Linked DNA regions of Homo sapiens: region 2 is linked to region 1. Evidence: fine-mapped expression QTL. A gene starts in region 1. The other region holds a variant in brackets. All regions are shown on one strand. Distances are from middle to middle.

Evidence for each region. PIP is the estimated chance that this variant, and not a neighbour inherited with it, causes the effect.
Region 2: its variant is fine-mapped to the expression of PAPPA2 in tibial artery (GTEx, PIP 0.99).

Annotation. Positions count from the first base shown.
Region 1 is chr1:176,458,108-176,469,726 of GRCh38, forward strand. It overlaps PAPPA2 (pappalysin 2), which reads left to right and starts at 5,068. Exons shown (of 23, transcript NM_020318.3): 1 at 5,068-5,311.
Region 2 is chr1:176,499,925-176,511,543 of GRCh38, forward strand. The region is part of intron 1 of PAPPA2 (pappalysin 2); the gene reads left to right. Among named protein-coding and RNA genes, the nearest start is that of PAPPA2, 43 kb to the left of the region's middle. The variant A/C (reference allele first, on the strand shown) is at 4,833.

The DNA.
Region 1 (11,619 bases):
TTTCTCCCTTTTAAGAATTAGTCAGTCAACATACTCTTCACTAATATCTCATGATGTACAGACATCAATATATGATCTATGCGAGTTGACGGAGAGAATGACATGGAATTATAAAACAGTTCTCATGGCTGAGAAGCTTGTGATCTAATAGGGCAAACACATATAAGAATAAAAACCAGGAAACATTTTAGCACTAATAATACTGTTTGGAAACTTATGAGAAAAAGGGAGTGAGTGCGTTGGCAGGAGGTGGGGGAGCTACCCCCCATGTACCATCCCATGGCAGCTAGCCTACACAAAGCCATGGACAAGTCACTGGTGGAGGCCTCACTATTCTGACCAGCTGCTAGTGAGAAATGGGCTCTTCCCAGCCAGAAGAGGCTGTCAGAAAGGCACAGGCACTTAACAGGTTTCAACTGAGCTTCCACAGACACATCCTCTAAGGAGTAGAAAACTCCATTCCAGACCCAAGGAGGCCAAAAGGGTTCCCGTATACATGAACAGGAATACTGTGGCAAAAAAACCAATAATACAATGACGGAAATCCTTAGCTTTGTGTCCAGGGAAAGCTTGGTTTAGCTGTGAGTGAGTGAAACCAGCTCAATAAACGTCAGCAATTTGAAGACATCTGGTCTTTATTTTTGGACTTTGGTACACTGAAGAGGATTATGGTTATACGATGTAGAGGCCATTTAGTTTTGTCAATCTACAGGATTTCTTATAATATGAATCCCTCACACTTAGAATAGAACCTTGCTCTCCAAAGTTGCCTGGAAATTTTTAAATATTAACTCTTCATCTCCCAGAGTGATTTTCTGAAGGAAGTTTTATCCTCAAAGGAAGGAAAGAGATTGTTTTAATAGACAAATTGAGTTATGGAGTAGATATTTATTTTACCCTGGTTGGTGGAACCTCCAAGAACTTCAATATTCTGTGACAGCCAAAAGGAATTCTTCTGTTCTTCTTGCTAAACTCTGATGTTATTTTTTTTCTCTCTCTCTTTTGTCTTCTCTTTTGGCTTCTGTTTGTCTTTAGCCATCCCCTACCTATGCTTAAAAATTATTAATCTGATAGTTATTGGTGATCTGATATTTACTTTCCATCCACCACCCTTTGTATTGAGATGGGAAAGTTCCCTTGACCCCCTTGTGGGACTTGTGACAAAGGTGGCTCATTTACTCAGCCATCAAGCTCAAACCCCTTGCAGGAGGGGGAGCACACAGGTGAGTGAGTTCAGGAGCAAGGGCTAGTGCCAACAGGAATGAACCCTGTACCATCCCATGGCAGCATCTAGGGGTTGTCTGTGACCTCTGGAGCCCCAAAGGGGCATGTGTTATAATCAGTGATCTTTTAGCTTTTGCTGTCCATGGATGGCTAAGTGTTAAACAGCTCAGTGGAGAGTCAGTGTGACAGCCTCTTGCACCTGCATCCAGATCCTTGTCTGGTGCCCAAGAGCAATGAGATCACACAGACTTGAAGGATGGTGAATGCAGAGATTTTATTGCATGGTAGAAGTGGCTCTCAGCAGGATGGGGAGCTGGAAAGGGGATGGAATGGGAAGATAATTTTCCCCTGGAATTCAGCTGTCGCCAGCCAAACTCCTCTCTGATCATCCCCGCCCAAATTCCTCTCCAATGTTCAGCTGCCTCTTTTCCTCTTGATGTTCAGACACCGTTTCTCTTCTCTCCTCTGCCACACTGCTCTGCTCCTCTGCCAGTGGAGCTTGGGGTTTTTATGGGTAGAGGATGGGGGGGGGTGTGGCAGGTTAGGGTGTTTTGGAAAAAGCAACATTTGGGAGGGAAAATAGGAATGCATGTTCTCATTTAGGGCTGTGGGTCCAGGCTTGAGGGTGGAGCCCTCACCAAGAATCCTACCCTTTTCTACCCCGTGTTTCCCTGCCTCCTGTCCATATCAATATCCACTGGCTAATGACCTGGTGCCTCCCCCAACCCTCTTTATGTCTCCCATGTTCCCCCACTTTTTTTTTGTTTGTTTTACCTTTCTAGCCCATCATTTCTGACATTCTCTACTTCCCCTGTTAATACCTGTGTTGAGTTCCATTGCCCAGGGCTCTGCCAGGTGATTGACTGTATTAGACAATTTGTAGCAAACCTGTTGATAGCCTACAAGTGGCTCAGGGGCTTCCCCCTGTCTGATAACATTTGCATTTTCATTGGGGATTTCAATGTCAAAAAGGTCAGTTGGGGATTCCTACACCTTGGCAGGCTTTACTCTTGATTTTTCTCCCCATCTGGCTGCCCATTGAGCCATGTTTAGAGCGGCATCTGCTCTCAGGTCATGGCTGCTGCAAGCTGGTTGGACTTATCGCTGTCTTATTCCAGTGCTTTTTCAGTTAACATGGTGTTTTTCAATCTATTCTAAAAGCAAAGGGCACAGGAAAAGACAGTAGGCAGAGGCAAGGAAACATTGCAAATTGGATAAAGAGCCAGGCCACTGGGCTGAGGTATTCTGTCTGTGGAAAGGCCCATTGGGTACCAATGGTATTGCTGTCCATTAAAGAAAATCCATAGGCTTTTTAAAAATGCATTTTCACCTTAATATAGCAGGAACAGCCACTCTGCCATGCAATTCCTGAGGATTTATGGCTGGCTGGGGTTAATGGTTTGAGGTGTTATTCTTTTCTGTGCCTCATTAATCCCCAGGAAGTGCCTGTGCTGAGATGGTTATTCAGCTCAGTTGGGCTCCAGAGGCACCAGTGTTCCCCACTCCACCTCCAAAGTGGCTGCAGGGGCCAGGCCACAGGAGCTCTCAGCTCTGACACAGGCTCTGTCTGGACCACCGTGTCCCTCAGAGCCTGGGTTAGTGACTCCACAAATGGCATTATGAATCCTAGGTGAGTCCTAGGTAAGTTTTGGCAGCCATTTTTCTTGGTTACTGGCATTGTTGATATGACTCTATGGCTTCCCCCTTTATCCTTTACCACAGAAAATTTGAAAAAGACACAGTTGGCCTCGTCTGAGAAGGAGAAGTGTGAGTGCAATGCTCCTTATCCACAGATGACAGAAGGGACTGATCCACTGATGGGGCAGAACTGATAACAGGACAGAGTCTTTAAGCAGCACAAGGTGCTTTCTGATGATCACAATGTATTGCATTTTGGTTGGGGGAATTCTAACTTTTTGGAGACATTAGTGTTTATAAAATATTCTCCTATACCTTTCTGTCCCACCTTCCTCCCTTCTACAAATATTAATTGAGCACTTACTAAGGTACCAGTATAGATATTGAGGACACAACCATGAACAAGAGGAACAAGGCTCCTGTCTTCAGGTTTTTGACATTTAAGTTTGCTTGAGGTCTGTGTGTGTGAAGGCCAGAAAATAAACATATAAACATTTAATCTTTTAACAAACCCATGGCTCAGGCAGAATAGGTGTACCCATATCTATTTCATAAATAAGAGACCTGAAACTTTGGAGAGGTCAATGATCTTTTCAGGTTAGCCAGTTTGTGCATTCATTAGCTTATCTATCAGACAGATTTACCAACACCAGTCATCTCTCAGCTCATCTCCTAGACTTTTGAGTTATAAAGATGACTAGGGTATGGGTCCTGCCTTCCAAGGCTCACAATACAGTGGTAAAGCAGCCACACAGACAAAAATATTCTAATCTGATAACTGCTATAATGGGACCTTTGCTTGCAAAATAGGGGCTTGAAAGAAGCATCTGCCTGAGGGAGACAATCAAGGTCAGCCACAAGTCTAAGGCTGGGAGAACGTGCTCAATAACACTTGTTGGATTGAATTGAGTCAGCTATTCAAGGCTGGCTTCACTATCTGGTTTAAAAAGTGTCCCCAGGACATCAGAATCATATATTCAAATAAAGCAAAAATAATCTCATTCCAAACCAAAATAGAAATTGTTTGTTCCACTTTTGGTCAGGCTTCCTGCTTTTATGTGATTAATTAAAAACAGGGTAGCCACTAAGCTGCAATATAAATGACAAATTATTTATGTCTTATTTATTAATGTAAAAATGCCCAGAAATTCCTCCTAGAGTCTGTTTCATCCACCCTCATCCTTCCTGTATACCTCCCTACCTCCATTAGTCTGGCTGTAATTGAGAAATACTTACACCTAGCCTCAACCATAGCAATGTAGAAAGAGCCATTAAACTAAACTCAGGAAACCTGGGTTTTTGTCCCGGGCCTGTGATTAGCTAAAATTCTGACCATGGGTAAGTAACTTCAGCTTTTTTTCCCCCTTTATTTTCCTTTCCTTTCCTTTCATTTCCTTTCCCTTCCTTTCCTTTCCTTTCTCTATCTCCCTCTATTTCTTTCTTTCTTTTTTTTTTTGATACAGGGTTTTGCTCTGTCTTCCAGGCTGGAGTGCAGTGGTATGATCAAATCTCTGCAGGCTTGATCTCTGAGGCTCAAGCAATCTTCCCACTTCAGCCCTTCTTAGTAGTTGGGACCACAAGCATGCACCACTACACCTGGTTAATTTTTAAATTTTTTGTAGAGATGGGCCCTCCTTATGTGGCCCAGGTTGGTCTTGAACTCAAGTGATTCTCCTGTCTCAACCTTCCAAAGTGCTGGAATTATAGGCATGAGCCACTGTGCCTGGCCTCACTTAACCTCTTGATGTTTCAGTTTCCTAAATTATAAACTGAGATTGAATACTTGTCCTATCTTACATCACATGTTCTTGTAAGGACCAAGTGGTAATACTGGGTGGTAGCTGGAGAATGGAGCAGTTAGCAGTTTCACATGACTAGCAAAAGGAAATTGTTGAAATAGCTGCATAAACTAGGGGCTGATAAGATCCTGAAAACCAGATGTAGGCTAAGCTGGCTAAGACCAACTGGACCCAAAATGGTGCTGGATTTGACATGGGTTTCACCTATAACCTCATTATATGTTCATTAACTTACTAAATCACACACCCACCAGTGCCGTGATAGTCCGGGAACACCCAAATTGGTGTAAAAATGGGTGGTACCACAGTTCCAGGAAATGTTCACCTTTTCCCAGGAATCTTCATGAATATTCCACCTCTTAGTTAAAGAAACTCATAAAGATGGAAACCCTGAACCCCACTGGGCATGACTCTCTCTCTTGAGTAGGCACACACTCCCTTTTCTCGGGTGTGTACTTTTTGCTTTGTGATACATCTCTGCACTTTCAGTATTTTCCAACTCATCCTTAAATTCCTTCTCACAACAGTGTCAAGAGCCTGGACGCCAGCCAGGATTGAGGTCCTACGGGTGTTTGGGGACCTCCCCAAGCCCACGAGTATCAATGGCAGTATCAATTGTCTGTGACAGTGATTAAGGAGCAAAACACTTGGTATGTATTGGGGGTGTCACTACTATTACCATAGCATGTCTGCTGACTGAACAAGATGCTGGACGTTTGCTAACTTGGCTTGTGCAGGGGGGTGTTAGACTTCTTGTATTCTTTTGGCATCAGAGGGCTGGGACGCAGCCCTGTAAGCGGGGATGAGCATCTCCCTTTAGCATCATTGTTCCCATCCAAGGGTCAGGCTCCCACTTAATGGCTCAGTTTCTCCAGTCTAATAACTTGTAACAAATTGTCTCATTTTTCTTTGATAAGTGACAACCTTTGGCTGCCTGGTCTTCTTTTAGGCTGCAACTGCTTCTGTGAGCTGGCAACTCCAGTTCTCCTGGGCCTCATCCAGGCCTGTGCAGGGAGACCATGGAGGGGATTAGGATGAGGGTTATTCACATCCTCTGCAGACACCTTCTCATGTTCAGTGTCTGCTTGGCTGGCATTAAAGGCAGAGGGAGTGCTGAGGATGAGTGTGTGTGGGGTGCAGGAAGGAAAGGATGGGTAAGGAGAGTTCTATTGCTAAGCTTAGGGTTATGAGAGGAAAAGTAGGTTGAGGCAAAAGCAGTGAGGGAGGATATAATTGAGCCAAATATCTTATTGGAACAGACAGAAGTGATAATATTTATTTCTTCTATAGATGCACTGATCATGTTGTCCAGATCAAAAATAGAAACTGTGGACTATGATCTAACAGATACATTTTTGAGGACAACAGGACAGTGTAGTTTGAATATAAACTCTCTGGGAAAATTCTGGAACAGTGATTTCTTATGCCTATGACCTCATACTCTCCCATAATTTCTTCTTCTTCTTTTAAAAATTTAACCTCTAGGAGTACAGAACACTCCCATAATTTCAAATCTTGCTGAGTCTAGTTTTGCCATTGGGCACAGTTGAGAAGTCTGTTTGTATTTATTCTATCTACTCATTCTTTCTTTCCTTTCAACAAGTATTTATTGAGCACCTACAATGTATGGCCCACTTCATGGGTGTGGGATCTCTGTAGTCACACAGGGCCCTACACTTAGGAGGGCCCTGTGCTTGGTTCAATGCACTGTTAACATCTTGAAATTTGTAATATTTCTCAAACAAGAAGTTCTGAATTTTTATTTTGCACCAGGCCTTGTAAATTATGTTTCTGGTCCAGATGAGGTACGATATTGGGTGTTGAGGATACAAAGATGAAAAGATATAGCTTTTTCCCAAACTCTCTCTAGCTGCCACCAGCTCTTTGCTTAGGAAATACCCCAGGTGCTGGACATGGCTCTCCGCATAGTTATCTGCTAAACACTGCCTTAGCTACCTGGGAGTTTGAAGAGTTTCTTCTTAACTAGTTCACTGTAAAGCATTCCAAATCATATAAATAGTTTTTTAATTATAAAAATAATAGAAGTTACTGTAGAAAGTTAGAACTATGCAGAAAAATTTGAAGAAGAAACTATAAAACAATCCATAATCCCAATATCCATATGCAGTGGTTATCACCGGATAGGTGGCTGGATAGTGGTTATTGCTGGATAGGTGTTTTCACTTTGAATTATTCATATTTATATTTTTAAATAAAAGTAGGATTCTAATACACGTATAATTTTATAATCTTGCATTTTCACTTAAAATTGCATATTTGCTATTTCCCAAGACATAAAATAATTTCCAAAACATGGTGTTCTGTGTTTGTTGCATTCTGACATGTGGATGTGCCATGATATATTTTCTTCCTTCCCATTTTTTGGGGTACATCTAAGTTGTTTTCAACTTTTTGCTGTGGTAAATGCTACTTGGATGAGCATCCCTATATATAAATCTTTGTCTGCTTCTTTGGTTATTTTCTTAGGATACACTTCAAAAAGCAAGATGACTAGTTAAAAGTGTATGGAGAGGCATGACACACATGCAAATCATTTCCAGAAGACTGCAACAACTTATACTCTCACCAGTAGTGAATGGGAGACCCTATTTCACAGGTCTCCCTATACTGGCTATTTTTTATTTTTCAAAGTGGTTGTCCAAGTTGACAGGTGACAACGTTTATTTGATTACTTGTTAGATTAGACGCATTTTTTCCTATATTTATTGGGCACATATATCACCTGTTTTTTCTTCAAAGGCTGCAAAAACTCTGAAATTTAATTCATACTTCAATATTTAATACAAAGTTACCTTTTTTATTGTTTCTTTTCTACTGTAACCTCATGCCTATCCTGACCCAGGCCATTCTTTTTTTTTTTTTTTAACTTTTAAGTTCAGGAGTACATGTGCAGGTTTGTTATATAGGTAAACTTGTGTCATGGGTTTTTTTTTGCATAGGTTATTTCATCACACAGGTATTAAGCCTAGTACCCATTAGTTATTTTTCCTGATCCTCTCCCTCCTGCCACTCTCCACCTTCCGGTAGGCCCCAGTGTGTGTTGTTCCCCTCTATGTGTCATGTGTTCTCATCATTTAGCTTCCTTTTGCGAGAACATGTGGTATCTGGTTTTCTGTTCCTGTATATCATTTTTTTTATAAGTTGTCTTATCAGACTTTTTGTTCATTCTCCTATCAGAGTGCTCCACTTTTTCTTAGTTATCTATAAATTAGTTATCTATTAAATGTCTTAGGTTTTAAAAAATGTATTAGGCAACATGCAGAATTAGGTCTAAGTGACAGATAATACATGCGTGTTTAACATGTTATCTCTGCTGAAGGGTATTACCTTTAATAATTCTTCAAACTTGAAGAATTATTTTCTATATAAAAACTTCATATAGAAGCTTAATGAGGTCCTATATGGGAATGAATTATTGCAAAGAAAATGAAATTCCTGTAATTGGAAAAATTGCTGCAAAGGCCAAATGAACATCGGCCAAGCTACTGTGGAAGGATTCTTGTGCTAGGCAAGAGGTTGGACTGAGTGAGTAATGTCCAATCATTTTTGATTCTCTTTCTATAATTCTAATGATAAAATTTCAAGCACCATCATCTGATTGGCTAGGGTCCTTCCAATTCTAATTTATGAGTAGTTACCTCCAGGTACATTCAGGCCTCCCTGGGTCAAGTAAGTTATCATATTAAATATTAATATTAGTATATTATGTGAGATGAAAAGAGATTAAGTTTCAAATGGTATGATAAAGAGGAACCATACTTACATATTACAGGGAGTCAGAAAAGAAGGAATCTGATGAGTGCTTTAGAAATCAGGGAAGGTCTCATGGAGAGAGTGAGCCTTGAATGAATCAGAGTCTGTGCAGCAGAGAGAGGTATGAAGGCTTTCTAGGTGCAGAGAACAACAATGTGGTTTGCCATGGGCTATGAACCCCACCTAGGGGTGGCCCTGTGTATCTGTCGCAGCACAGACCGAAGGCCAAATCAGTGCAAAAGGGGATTTGTCATCTTGGAAAGCCAAAAATTCCCTGCAACGTGGAGGGAGAAAAAGAGTTTCCAGAGCCAAGGGCAACTTCCCTCTGGACTCCACAGTGAAATTCTGGTGTTAGGCTCACCTGTTTTGCATAGAAATCCTAAATTGTATTTTGTAGCTCTGAGACCATATGGGAGGTCCAACCCTTCTGCGAAACAGTCATGTATCGCTTAATGATGGAAATATGTTCTGAGAAATGCATCGTTAGGTGATTTCATGGTCATGTGAACATCACAGGGTGCAGTTACACAAACCTACACTGTATAGTCTACTATATACCTAGGCTTTATGGCATAGCCTACCGAGCCTACAAACCTGTATAACATGTTACTGTACTGAATACTGTGGCAGTTGCAACACAATGACATTTGTGTATCTAAACACCTCCAAACATAGAAAAAGAATAGTAAAAATATAATATTATAATCTTATGGGACCACTGTTGTTTATGCAGTCCGTTGTTGACAGAAACGTTATGTGGCACATGATTGTAAGTTCAAGCAAGCTGAGGAGCTTTTCTCCTCCTTTTCTTTTCAGTTGTTTTTCTCTGAGTTTTTATTCTCATTGTTAGAAGTGTTGGCATGTTGCATTTGTTGGAAACAGAGAATAGCACTTGCCTTGTGGGAGGTCAGCTTCAGCTTCCCCATCTGAACTTTGAGAAGCTGCTTTCACATTAGGAAGACTCTATGTAACAAGGATGGGTTCTGGGGCAAGGAAGAGAGTCTTGTCACCTCAGCTGTTTGTTGAATCAGGGGCAGTGGATGCCTCATTTATTCAGTTGACAGCGCCAGGTGCTAGTGACTATAAGGTGATGGGTTCAATTCACAGTGGAGCCAGCTAACTTCACTCTGTTTCACAAATGGTCCCAAGTTATGCTTCCTATCTGTCAGTTTATAAGGTCACTAATTTGGGGAGCTAGGTTTGGCACTTCAGTACAAACCACTTTCTCAATTGGGTCTCATAACTGAGATGCTAGACACATAATTGGTACTTCACGAATCCATTTGATGAGTATTTGTGGAGCCACTACAATGTACCAGGAACTGTGTTAGGTGCTGAAAATGCAGATTAAATCAAGACACTCTCTGTACAGTGGATTTGATAAATAGATGAAGAATAGCATTTGTGTGCAGAAACCTAAGAGGGGCTGGCTGGGGAGAGTAAGAGGCAGTAAAGGGTGTGAGATCAAGGGTGACCATTATAAAGTGGACAAAATGCAATAGACAGGGACCATCCAAAAAGGAGCACTATTTCAAAACTCCATTTATCTCAAGGTTTGTGGATTCAAGTAGCTTAGTTTTGCTGAATTCACATTTGGACTATGTGAGTAAGCACCAGAGAGGAAGGTGATGTTTAACACGGGCCTCTGAGATTCTTCCATCCTGGATGTCTCTGGGCTCTGACATTCCTCCCTCAAAATCCTTTTCATGGGAGAGCTTCAGACTGAGTTTTTCCTTTGTACTCAGTTAAGGGCTTTGTTGATGTGGGAAGAGCATTTGGGTGTTTAACCAGCACCAGGAAAAGCAAATCTGCTTATTAGGTCCACCCAAAACTAGGGAGGGGGTATCAGTTTGGAAGGCAGCCACATCAATCAACTGAGCAAATTCACATTGCCAACTCTTTATGGATACCTTTCCAGGTATATGGTCCCATCTCTTCTCTATTCCTCCTAGCTAAGTGCTGGCAAAGTGGTCAGGGAGGTTCACTCACCTAGATCAGCTCTAGCCCTCCTGCATGTGAGGTGGGCATGGAAAGAATCAGGGGGTTCAGAGGCAGGTGTGAGTGCAGCATCTTCTGCACAGGGCCCTCTCTGTGTACCCTCATGCCCCCTCATCTTTCATGTGAAGGCACACATTGATTTTAAAAGCTGCTAGTCATTGGTCACAGGGGTTGACTTGGCCACTTAGGTACCTATCTCCTTTCCCCCTCTTGCTTCCTGGTGTGCCCTTTCTCAAGAAGAGTTTCCCTGACAGAGGAATGTTGATCCATGCTAAGATTTCTCTTTGTTCTTTGGGACATATATCCTTTAAAAAGTTTTGTCTCAATAAATAAGAATACTATGTTTATGGAGCATATACTACCTGTCTGGTACTGTTTTTGGCAATTCAAATGCATCATTTCATTAAACACTCACCAGATGTTAGTAACTTGTAAGAGCTGGTAGGTGGAAGAATCAGGATTCAAGCCTGGAATTTCCAACTTCAAGCTCTGTTGCTAACTGCCATCCTATCCTGCCTCCAAATATTTGCAATGCTTTCATACACTCAGTCGCTTGCATGGTGGCAGCCAACGTGAAAGGAAGAGCATTGGTCTCAATAACTAACATTTTTTGCTGCTTCAATTTCCTTGATAAGCCCAAGTCTTTTGTGTAAGAAAATACTTTTCCTTCTTCAGGTCTTTGTGGCTTTCTCTTAAGCCTAATTGTTGGAAAAATACTTTTCTGCCAGAAAAAACAGTTTCTGATCACTCTGTGGTACCTATTAAATGCACTAGTCCCTTCTTCTCTCCCTCACCTTGCTTTCTCTTCTGTTTCTGGGAGAGGGAGTGGGTGGGGTGCCACTGAACATGAAATCCAGGCACACGCTATAACACACACACCCCTCTAGTACCCCACCAACATGCCTGTGAGTGGAACATGGAAAACGGCCCAGGATTAACAGCACCATGGGAAGAAATGGGGACCGCAGCTTGGGTGATGCCTTGGGAAGTGCTTGTCGTCCTTCAGAATTAAGTGAGCAGTTGCATACTTTTCATCCAGCTGGGGAGAACAGCTCCCACTAGAAAAGGCAAAGCAACCTGACTGTGGTATTTACTGGCAACTGGCCTCAGTGACTGCTTTTGATAACATCCACTGGGCCAAAGTTCTGGATTGTTTTATAGCAAGACTCTGCTCTCACCTCCCAGA
Region 2 (11,619 bases), 42 kb after region 1:
TGTATGTATGTATTAGGAGGTCATCATGTTCTTTCAATAATAAATGAGAACAGCCTGCTCTTGGTTTGGAATGTTTACACCCTTTTGCAATTTAATTAGAAATAAGGATTTTAAGATAAATGAGTGTGTGGGTTTACATGGATAATTGTACTCAAATCAAAGGAGAGGTGACATTTGTGAAAATTTTCACATTTAGAAATATGTAAGTACATAAAAAGTTGTGAGGTTTTGTTTACCCTGTAAAAATAAGATACCTTTCTAGATATTTTCTTCCTTTTCCCACATCTCTGAAATTGGAACATTTTCCTATTTACTTTTACAGTTCCATGTATTTTATTTCAAAAATAAGAAAAACAATAAGTTTATAGGTCAAACTAAATTAAACACAGTATATTATTTTGTTCCTAAGCAAAAGGAAAAAGTGACTTTAGATATGGAAAGGCACCAGAAGAAAAAACATTTCAATTTCCTAATATATGCTATTTCTAAAAGCTTTTTTCACTGTAATTGAATTTTAAAAGAAAAGTTAAACCTCTAAATATGTGTACATATTTATATATATACATTTATATATAATTTATTTATACATTTATATATAATTTATTTATATATATTTGTATACATATAAAACTAGTTAACTTAGTTCACATCCTATTTATGAACTCTTTACTGTTTGCAATAACACTTGTAATTTAGGCCTATTTATTTCAAATCTTTTTGAACAGTAACATGAATTCAGAAAATTTCTAGCTAAGATTAGAGGTACATTCTGCAGTCGTGCAATAAGTCAAATACAACCAGTTCCTACTGGCATTAACTTTTGATAATGATTCAATACCAATTTCCCCTAACCTATGTATGTGATAACATAAATCTAAACCATGGTTACTGTTGACGTCATGGCTGACATGTCATTGAGAAGTCATCCGGAGGCAGCTTATTTAAAATATTGACTAATATGTGCTTTACTTTGCTAATAGCCTTAGCAAATTGGTTTTCCTTTACAGTATATTAGTACCCAGAAGGTTGCTAGGTTAGCATTAACTGCGTACTGTCAACCTTACTAGTTTCCAAATGTTAACCATAAAATATGTTTTATTTTATAACATATATAGGCATATACAATATATTAATAAGTATATATAATAGAATATATTAATATTTATAATAGAATAATATGATATATATTATACAATTATATGAAAGAAATAGAAAACCACTGGTAAGACTGACTCCAGAAGTTAAAAGCACAGAAGTAGCAGCATGAAAGCAAATTCCCAGACTTAATGGAAAAGCTTTTTCTAACAGCTTTGTTATCTCTTAAAAGTTAGTGGCTTCTGATAAATATCTCCCTATTTTTTAGTTATCACGTTTAACAATTAGTCTCTATTATTTTGAATGGTAATTACAAAGAAACAAGAAATGACAGGTCTTTGCTATAAAATCTGTTATTACTACAAAATTGATCTAGGTGAAGTTGTCCTGTCCCTCTTTGTCCCCATTTCCGTCCCTCAGGCCACTTTTTTGCAAACCCCAAATTTACATCCTCACTTCTGTCCAAACTGATGAAACATTTAAAAAATCTACAGAAACTTAAAATGGGAGCAAACAAGCTAGTAATGTACTACTGCCCCCTTGGCACTTGTAAGACCTTTTCTCTCTTGCTAAAGTAATTTTCCAGTAAGAAATGGGGAAGCCTTTCTCAAGGTTATGTCAGTGCAAATGGTTGTAGAAGAGCCCAGAGACTCCATTTTATTCTTTGTAATAGTCAGAGAAGAGTGATTGCTTCCTTGACTTTGTGGCCTTGACCATTCCTTAAGTGGCTGAGTAAAAAACAACAACATGTCTCAGAGGAGAGCTTTCTAATGGTTTTCCTGTGGTCCATTGCCCCTGGGGTGCTTCCATCACAGCGAGTCACCGTGGTGATGCCACAGTTTGAGCCTTCCTCTGAACCTTTTGCAATAGTGACACTGATATCATTTATAAAATTAATGCACCCTGGTTCAGTGGCATAGTTGCTAAGAAAAGACAATCTCTTATGGAATACATGAGTGAAAAAACAATGAACATAGACTAACACAAAGAATAACTTCTGATGTAAGTTTTTTATTAAGCCTGGAATAGCTCTTAAGAAATAAGCAGGATTGACACTTCTCATTTAATGTAGGAATGACCTACTAAGCAATGAACAAATCTTGCAAGTTTTGTCATTTACTATCCTCCAGACATCTGATTCAAGACTTGATAGCTGTCTGCACCACCCTTTCAGAATCTAACAAACAATTTGTTTGAAAGCATTGGAATGAGGTGGTGATGCCCCAAACAAGGTTTTTGCCCATATATCTTTAAACTTAAATGATATTAGTGAAGTCTATGTTTGTCATTTGGTGTAGTACAAGTAGCTATAACATAGCTGTGAAGATAGGGATTGAGTTACTTGTATTCTCAGCATTTCTGATGTACTTATTCTATCTAAAACTTTCTTCATTGGGAATGGCTAATGCAATTGATATGATCAATTTTTAATCAGCTTTTCTTAGAAAAAGATTTATTTTGTTGGGTTATACCAAATAAGCTTGTATGTATTATTCTTAATAGTATCCTTACCTGTGTCTTGCTCCACCCTTGAACAACTAGATACTGCATCTGGTCAAACTTTCAAGTAAACAACAATCACTAGGTATGTTTCAGATGGTGGGGCAAGATATTAGGACAACAGTGCAATCTCTCCATATGAAAGGCAAGTAAGTGCTATGGAAGGTGTGCATGGCAAGACTAAGTTGTTTTTCTTTCAAACAACTTACTTCACATCTAATTGAAACATGACCTATTATTGGATCTTCCAAGTTACTTGTGTGTCTTGATTATCAAGAGGACTTCCAACATTTAATTTGTGTGAAGAAAAGGGGTACAACATGATTAGGTGCCTGTAGAGTCCATGTCGTAGGTTTTTCTTCCAGTTAATAAAACCGGTTCATGTCCTGAGTATGATGCACCCAGTAATCTGTATAGTTAAACACTGGGGAATAAACATTGTATTACTTGACTATTGCTGCTGAAATAAATTGCTGCAAATTTCGTGGTTTAAAATGACACAAATATATTACCTTGTAATTCTGCAGGTTAGAAGTTTGGGGTAGGTCTCACTTTTACACTGGGTCAAAATAAAGGTGTCAGAGGGCTATGTTCCTTCTGGAGACTCTAGGAGAGAATCAATTTTTTGCCTACTCCACCATCCAGACACTGTTGACATCCCTTGGCTTGTGAACCTCATCCATCATCAAAGCCCATGGTGACTGGCTGAATCTTTCTTATATTTCATCACTCTGACAGTGATGAAGATGAGGCATCTTCTGCCACTCACTTCCACTTTAGAGAACCCTTTGATTACAGTGAACTCACCTGGATAATACAGGATAGCTTCCCTATTTTAAGATCAGCTGATCAGTAATCTTAATCCCATTTACAATCTTAATTCTCATGTAACATAATTTCTTTCCATAATTTGCCATGTAACACAACATATTTACAGATTCCAGTGATTAGGAAGTAGACATCTTTGGGTGGCCATTCTTCTTTCTCCCACATTAACACAGAAAAATTTTAAGAGATGGTTAATTAGAATCATAAAAAAATTTAAAACATAGCCATAGAGGTAGGTGTGAAATTTCCTGATTCTCACTATAAAACTCAGAACTTCTTAGTTAATATGTTCATTATTCCAGTGTGACATTGACCTTGTTCTTGTGCCATAGCTCCAATATTGTGAAGTGAATTCTGGAGAAAGCAGTGTCTGTTCTTTGTAAGGATTAGGCAGAGGATTGGCTCTTGCCATTCTGGAAAGTCAAGTTCCATGCTCAGAAGGCAGATGTTGCAGAATGCCTCCTCAGATTAGGAATAGTTCATCAGTGGCAATTTTTGTGGGAGAAGAACATAGCAGGAAACAAGTAGTACAAATAAGCATTAAGCTCTGTTTTATTTCTTCTACAAGTGTATCATGAAATAAACATCTCTACAGAAGTGGGATGAAAAAACTCAGCATCAATGTCAGGACATAAGGAAGTCACTTGAAAGTTTTATTTCATGTACATTTTTTCATTAGGTTAATCTCTGGAAACTATGAAGAACTTCCTTAAGTTCATCTTGGTTATGGTCATTCTGTGGTATGGTTCCATATCTTTACCCTCTATGACATACTGTGACACTGCTGGGGGAATTGACTGGCCAATATCAAACTCTTCTGTGTACACTAAGCAGCAATTTTTGAAAAGTCATCAGGAAAAAAATAAATAGCCTTGAAAAAATTTAAACAGTACAAAAGAGTGTATAATATGAATATTTCTCTGAATTTAGACTCCTATATTCTGTTTCAGAGAAACATTTTCCTGCATATTATTTCAGAGGCATCAATTTTCTGTGCATTCTTTTAGAATATTTCTATGCTATACATGCAGATATATAAATATATTCTGTTCTTTACACAAATGAAAGTATGTTATATACACTATTATGTTATCTTCCTTTTGTTCACTTAACTATATTTTCATGGTATCCACATATCAGTAGATATAGATCACTTTTTCGTCTTGCTAATGGCTGTGGTAGTCATTTAAGCACAGACTGTGTTCAGGATGGAGTCCACATTCAAATGCTTAGCTGCGTTCCCTGATGCTGTCTAGTTTTTTCTGTAGGAGCTAATCCAAGACAGAAGATCAGTTGCTGTTAATATTCACAAAATACTGTTTTCTTACATTTCCCCTCTCTTTGGAAAGACTTTATATTCTTGGCTTATTAAAGCAATGGATAGCCATGTGACCTGCTTAGACCAATGC[A/C]ATGTGTCACTTTCAAGGCAAAAGTTGCAAGGGCCATCTCATGGTTTTCCATATCTCTTTTCCTCTACCATAGAACTGTTTATGTCTCAGATGGGTACTACTCCTTCAGATGGATGATGAAATGAAGATAATACGGAACAGAGCTATAATCTACCCATAATGGGTGGGCAGCATAAGTGAGAATAAAACGTAGTTATCTTAAGTAACTGCTATTGGAAGGTTACTTATAACCACAGAATGATCTAGCCCATCCTACCTAATACAGGGAGTTACCTAAGGAACAGTAAAACAGTGTGAAAATCCTTAATAAAACAGTTTTTCCTGTTGTGAAATGGCTTTCTAGTGGCCTTGTCTTTCCTAATTCCTTCCTCCCAAGTTCATTAAATAAAATGACAAAAAACCCGTTAATAAATAACATAACCCAATACTCATTGACATCTGTAGCATTTTCATTCTATTTAATCAATTCTTTCAACCCTTCCAAGGCTATTTTGTCCTCAGATCAAAGTAATCAATGCATTTGTGCTTTAAAAGCAAACAAAAGCACATTTGGGGTCAATGTCTTCTTCTGGTAATCATGGGGTTATTGGGTCCAGATTTCCCCTCCCATTATAAACGACTAAAACAACTGAACAAAGTACATGAGACAACTGTTTTTTGGAGTTTGGAAAACAGGCAGCACAGGACTGTGATTCTTGAAAGTAGAGAAACACGTGAAGTGAGCCATAGATTGACCAACTTTTGCCTGGAGACACTTTCCACTTCTGGTTCAAAGAAGGATTCTCAAGCCAAGTAGGGCAGAATTGCTGAGTTGCAGAGATAGAGACTGGAGTTCACACAATTAGAAAAAATTAGATTGGAGGTTACACAATTAGAAAAAACTATTCTAAAATTCATATGGAACAGCAACAACAACAACAAAAAGCCTGAATAGCCTTTTTACAGGGACAGAGTGAGACTCTGTCTCAAAAAAAACCAAAAAAACAAAAACAAAACACCAAGGTGACTTCAGTTATCAAGATAGAGTATTGGAGAGGAGGGAGTTGCACAGGAAATGAGGTTCAAAAATATCACAGGGATTCTCTTGAGTCTGTTGTTGAATACTTGAACATGCATGCAAAGGAATAAATCTTACAAGACCAGTAAAAAAATGATAAACTGAAGGGTTCCCAGAGCTCACAAAAGGCTGGAAGATACTCAGATTTTAAGCAGTTAGACTGGAGAATTCTTGTTAAGAACTTGGGGCATCTTGGATTAATTTGTGTATATAGTGAAAGATAAGCACCCAATTTCATTCTTCTGTGTGTGGCTAGCCAGTTATCCCAGCACCATTTATTGAATAAGGAGTCCCTTCTCCATTGCTTGTTTTTGTCAGCCTTGTCAAAAATCAGTCAGATGGTTATAAGTGTACAGCTTCATTTCTGAATTTTCTGTTCTGTTCCATTGGTCTGTGTGTCTGTTTTTGTACCAATACCATGCTGTTTTGGTTATTATTGCCTTATAGAATAGTTTGAAGTCAGCTAGTGTGATGCTTCTGGCTCTGTTCTTTTTGCTTAGTATTGCTTTGGCTATTCAGGCTTTTTTTTTTCTTCCATATGAATTTTAGAATAGTTTTTTTCTAATTATGTGAAGAATGACATTGCTAGTTTGACAAAAATAGCACTAAATCCGTAAATTGCTATGGGCAGTATGGCCATTTTAATGATATTGTTTCTTCCAATCCAGGAGCTTGGAATATTTTTCTATTTATTTGTGTCATCTCTGATTTCTTTCAGCAGTGTTTTGTAGTTTTCCTTGTAGAGATCTTTCATTTCCTTTGTTAGCCATATTCCTAGGTATTTTATTTTCTTTGTGGCTATGTAAATGGGATTGTGTGCTTGATTTGACTCTCAGCCTAATCACTATTGGTGTATAGAAATGCTACTAATTTATGTGCATTGATTTTGTATCCTGAAATCTTGCTAAAATCATTCATCAGGGCTAGCAGCCTTTTTGTGTAGTCTTTAGGGTTTTCTAAATAGAGAATCGTATCATCAGTGAAGAAAGATAGTTTGGCTTTGTAAGACCTCAAACTATAAAAATCCTAGAAGAAAAGCTACAAAATGCCCCTCTTGACATTGGTCTTGGCGAGAAATTTTTGGCTAAGTCCCTAAAGGCAATTGCAACCAAAAATTGACAAGTGAGACCTAATTAAACTAAAGAGCTTCTGCACAGCAAAAGAAACTATCAATAGAATAAACAGACAACCTACAGAACGAGAGAAAGTATTTGCAAACTATGCATCCAACAAAGGTTTAATATCCAGAATCTATAGGGAATTTAAACAAATCAACAAGCAAAAATAAATAACCCCATTAAAAAAAGGGCAAAAGACATGAACAGACACTGCTCCAAAGAAGACATACAAGTGGTCAACAAATACATAAAAAATGCTTCATGTCACTAATCATTAGAGAAATACAAATCAAAACAACAATGAGATACCATCTCACAGCAGTCAGAATGACTGTTACTAAAAAGTAAAAAAGTAACAGATGCTAGTAGGGCTGTGGACAAAAGGGAACTCTTCTACACCTTGGTGGGAATGTAAATTAATTCAGCCACTGTGGAAAGCAGTTTGGAGATTTCTTAAAGAACATAAAACAGAACTACCATTTGACCCAACAATCTCATTACTGGGTATATACCTAAAGGAAAATAGATCATTATACCAAAAAGACACCTGCACTTGTATGTTCATCACTGTGTTATTCACAATAGCAAAGACATGGAATCAAGCTTAATGCCCATCAATGATGGAATGGAAGAAAATCTAGTACATATACATCATGGAATACTACACAGCCATAAGAAAGAATGAAATCGTGTCTTTTGCAGCAACATGGATGGAGCTGGAGACCATAATCCTAAACAAATTAATGCAGGAATAGAAAGCTAAATACCATAGGTTCTCACTTATAAGTGGAAGCTAAACATTGAGCCCAATGAACATAAGCAGGGATACAGTAGACATTGTGGACTACTAGAGGAGGGAGGGGAGGGAGGGAGGCATGGGATGAAAAAGTACCTGTTGGGTACTATGCTCACAACCTGAGTGCAATATACCCATGTAACAAACCTGCACATGTACCAACATATCTAAAGTAAAAGTTGAAATTTAAAAAAAATTATATAAAAAGCAGAAAAGCTACCAGAATAAAAAAGTAAAAATCGGAAGAAAAACAAACTAAAAACCCCTAAAAACCTTGGGGCATTTGGTCAAGACCTCAGAGAAGTCATGCCTTCATAGTGGGGCTAAACTATCCTTATAGTAAAGGCTACTCAACAGACTTTATAAAGCTTAAAAACAATCTTCAAAAAGATCAAGCTGATCTTCCAGTAATGTAATTGTTTACCAGAACAAAGTGTAGCACTCTTTAAAGAAAGACTACGAAATCCATCATTCAAAACATAAAATTAACCAAATGTGGCATTCCGTAAAATTACTAATCATGTGAAAACAGGAAAATATGATTCCATATCCAGTAAAATAAATCAGTCGGTAGAAACATACTCAAAATGACAGAGGTGAAAGAATTAGCAAACAACAATTTAAAAACAGCTATTGTAAATATGCATAATTATTTAAAGAAAAATATGAACACTGAGGATAAAAATGACATATAGAGAAAAACATAAATCATAAATTCTAATTCTGAAAAATAAAATATCTTGAATGAAAAATCACTGCATGGAATTAATAGCCAATTAGACAATGTAGAAGAAAAAATGGGGAACTTGAAAACATAAATGAAAACTATCCAAAATGAAGTATATATAGGAAAAAAAGTAAAAAAAAAAATAATGAATAGAGTCTCAATGACAATGATATGGTGTGGCTCTGTGTTCCCACCCAAGTCTCATATCAAATTGTCATCCTCACATGTTGGGGGAGTGACCTCGTGGGAAATGATTGAATCATGGGGGTGGATTTCTCCCTTGCTGTTCTCATGATAGTGAGTGAGTTCTTATGAGATCATTTTGTTTAAAAGTGTAACACTGTCCCCCTTCACCCTCTCCCTCCTGCTGCCATGGAATATGTGCCTTGCTTCCCCATCATCTTCTGCCATGATCATAAGTGTCCTGAGGCTTCCTCAGCCATGTGGAACTGTGAATCAATTAGACCTTTTTTTTAAAAATAAATTACTCAGTCTCAGGTAGTTCTTTATAGCAGTGTGAAAACGGACTAATACAATGGCTTTTGGAAAAATTTCAAGCAGTCTGACATATATATATGTTAGATGAAATATAATATGTATAATTAGAGTTTATTATATCTAATATATAAGTAGAGAATATGTGATGCACTATTTAATCAGAGGTCAGATGAGAAGTGGCTCACTATCATGAGAACAGCAAGGGAGAAATCCACCCCCATGATTCAATCATTTCCCACGAGGTCACTCCCCCAACATGTGAGGATGACAATTTGATATGAGACTTGGGTGGGAACACAGAGCCACACCATATCATCTAACATATATATATGTCAGACTGCTTGAAATTTTTCCAAAAGCCATTGTATTAGTCCGTTTTCACACTGCTATAAAGAACTACCTGAGACTGAGTAATTTATTTTTTAAAAAAAAGGTCTAATTGATTCACAGCTCCACATGGCTGAGGAAGCCTCAGGACACTTATGATCATGGCAGAAGATGATGGCGAAGCAAGGCACATATTCCATGGCAGCAGGAGGGAGAGGGTGAAGGGGGACAGTGTTACACTTTTAAACAAAATGATCTCATAAGAACTCACTCACTATCATGAGAACAGCAAGGGAGAAATCCACCCCCATGATTCAATCATTTCCCACGAGGTCGCTCCCCCAACATGTGAGGATGAAATTAGAGAATATGTAATGTATATTTAATTAGAGTTTCAGAAGAATGGAGGGGGACAGAAAAATATATGCAGGAATATGACTTTGCTGGGCATGGTGAATCACACCTATAATCCCAGCACTTTGGGAGACCGAGGCTGGCAGATTGCTTGAGCCTGGAAATTTGAGAACAGCCTGGGCAATATGGCAAAACCCCGTTTCTACAAAAAACAAAACAAACAAACAAAAAAAAACAACAAAAAAAACACATTAGCTGGGCATGGTGACGTGTGCCTGTAGTCCCAGCTACTTGGGAGGCTGAGGCAGGAAGATCGCCTGAGCCAGGGAGGTTGAGACTGCCATGAGTTGTGATCATGCCACTGCACTCCAGCCTGGGTGACAGAGTGAGAACCTGTCTCAAAAACAACGACAAATAAACCCCAAAAACAAAAAATAAGAAAAAGAAATATGGCTGAAATTTTTCAAATTTGATGAAAACTATAAGCTCACATATTTGAGAAGTACAAGGCATTTCAAGCAGGCTAAACACAAAGACAAATATACTAAGACACATCATAACAAAATTTGTAAAAACTGATAGTATAAAGAAAATTTTAAAAAGCAGATAGGGGTGGGGAACATGTTATGAACAGAGCAACAAAGATAAGAATTATCATCGTTTTCTCACCTGAGCCTATTTAAACCAGAAGACAATGTAACACCATCTTTAAAGTACTGAAACTAAAGCAAACAGAACAGAACAAGAAAATTAAATTAACAAAAACCTTCTGTTAAACTAGAATGCCATATCAAATGAACATTTCTTTTAAAAGTGGAGTTTAAATAATGGCTTTTCAAAGAAAAGTTGAAAGAACTTGTATTTATGAGATCTGAACTACAAGAAATGTTATAAGACATTCTTGAGGAAGAAATTAGAGCTACATACAGACATAAAGAACCCTACAAATTGTAAATATATGAATAAATAAAAAATTTTACTTAAGATTTTTTTCAAAAGATAACTGAAGCAAAAACGGCAGTCGTTTTATAGTTTATAATACATACAGATAAAAATATATAATAGTACAAAGAATGGGAAGGAGAAAATGGAAGAATATCACTGTAAGTAATATAATAGCACTGAAGGTAGACTGAGATAAGCTAAAATGTATATTTTAAAATTTAAAGCAACACATACACACACACACACACACACACACACACACACACACACATACCCCAAAAATGAAAAAACAGAGGGAGAGCTAATAAGCCAGAGATAAAACCCAATTATAAAAACATTTAATTTAATCCAAAGAAGGCAGAAAAAAGGAACAAAAAAAGAATTAATGGGGCAAATTGAAAACAACTATTAAGATAGTTAATTCAAACATAGCCATATCAATAATCATAATAAGTGTATACTTTCTAAACACTTCAATTAAAGGGCCAACATTATTAGAATGGATTAAAAAAAAGAAATAATCATTCCTGTTATAGTTTTGTGTTGTCTATAAAATGTGTACAGTAAATACAAAGTCACAGATAGGTTCAAAATAAAAGGATGGAAAAAATATACCATTCAAACACTAATCAAATGAAAGCTGTAATTCATATATTAATATCAGAAAAAAGGACTTTTCAGAACAAGGTATATTGCCAGGGATTATGATACAGAAAAAGCATTTGTAAAAAATATAGCCCTCATTCATGATTAAAACTCTCAACAAATTAGGAATACAAGTCCAGTTTGGTGTACTTCTGATTTACAGGGAATCTGCAAAAACTTACAGTGAATATCATACTTAATGGGGAACAATTGAATACTTTCCATTTAGGACTGTGAACAAGTCAAGGATGTTTGTTTTTATAACTTCTGTTCGACACTCGTTGTCTTAACTGGTTGTGATAATTTTATGTGTCAGTTTA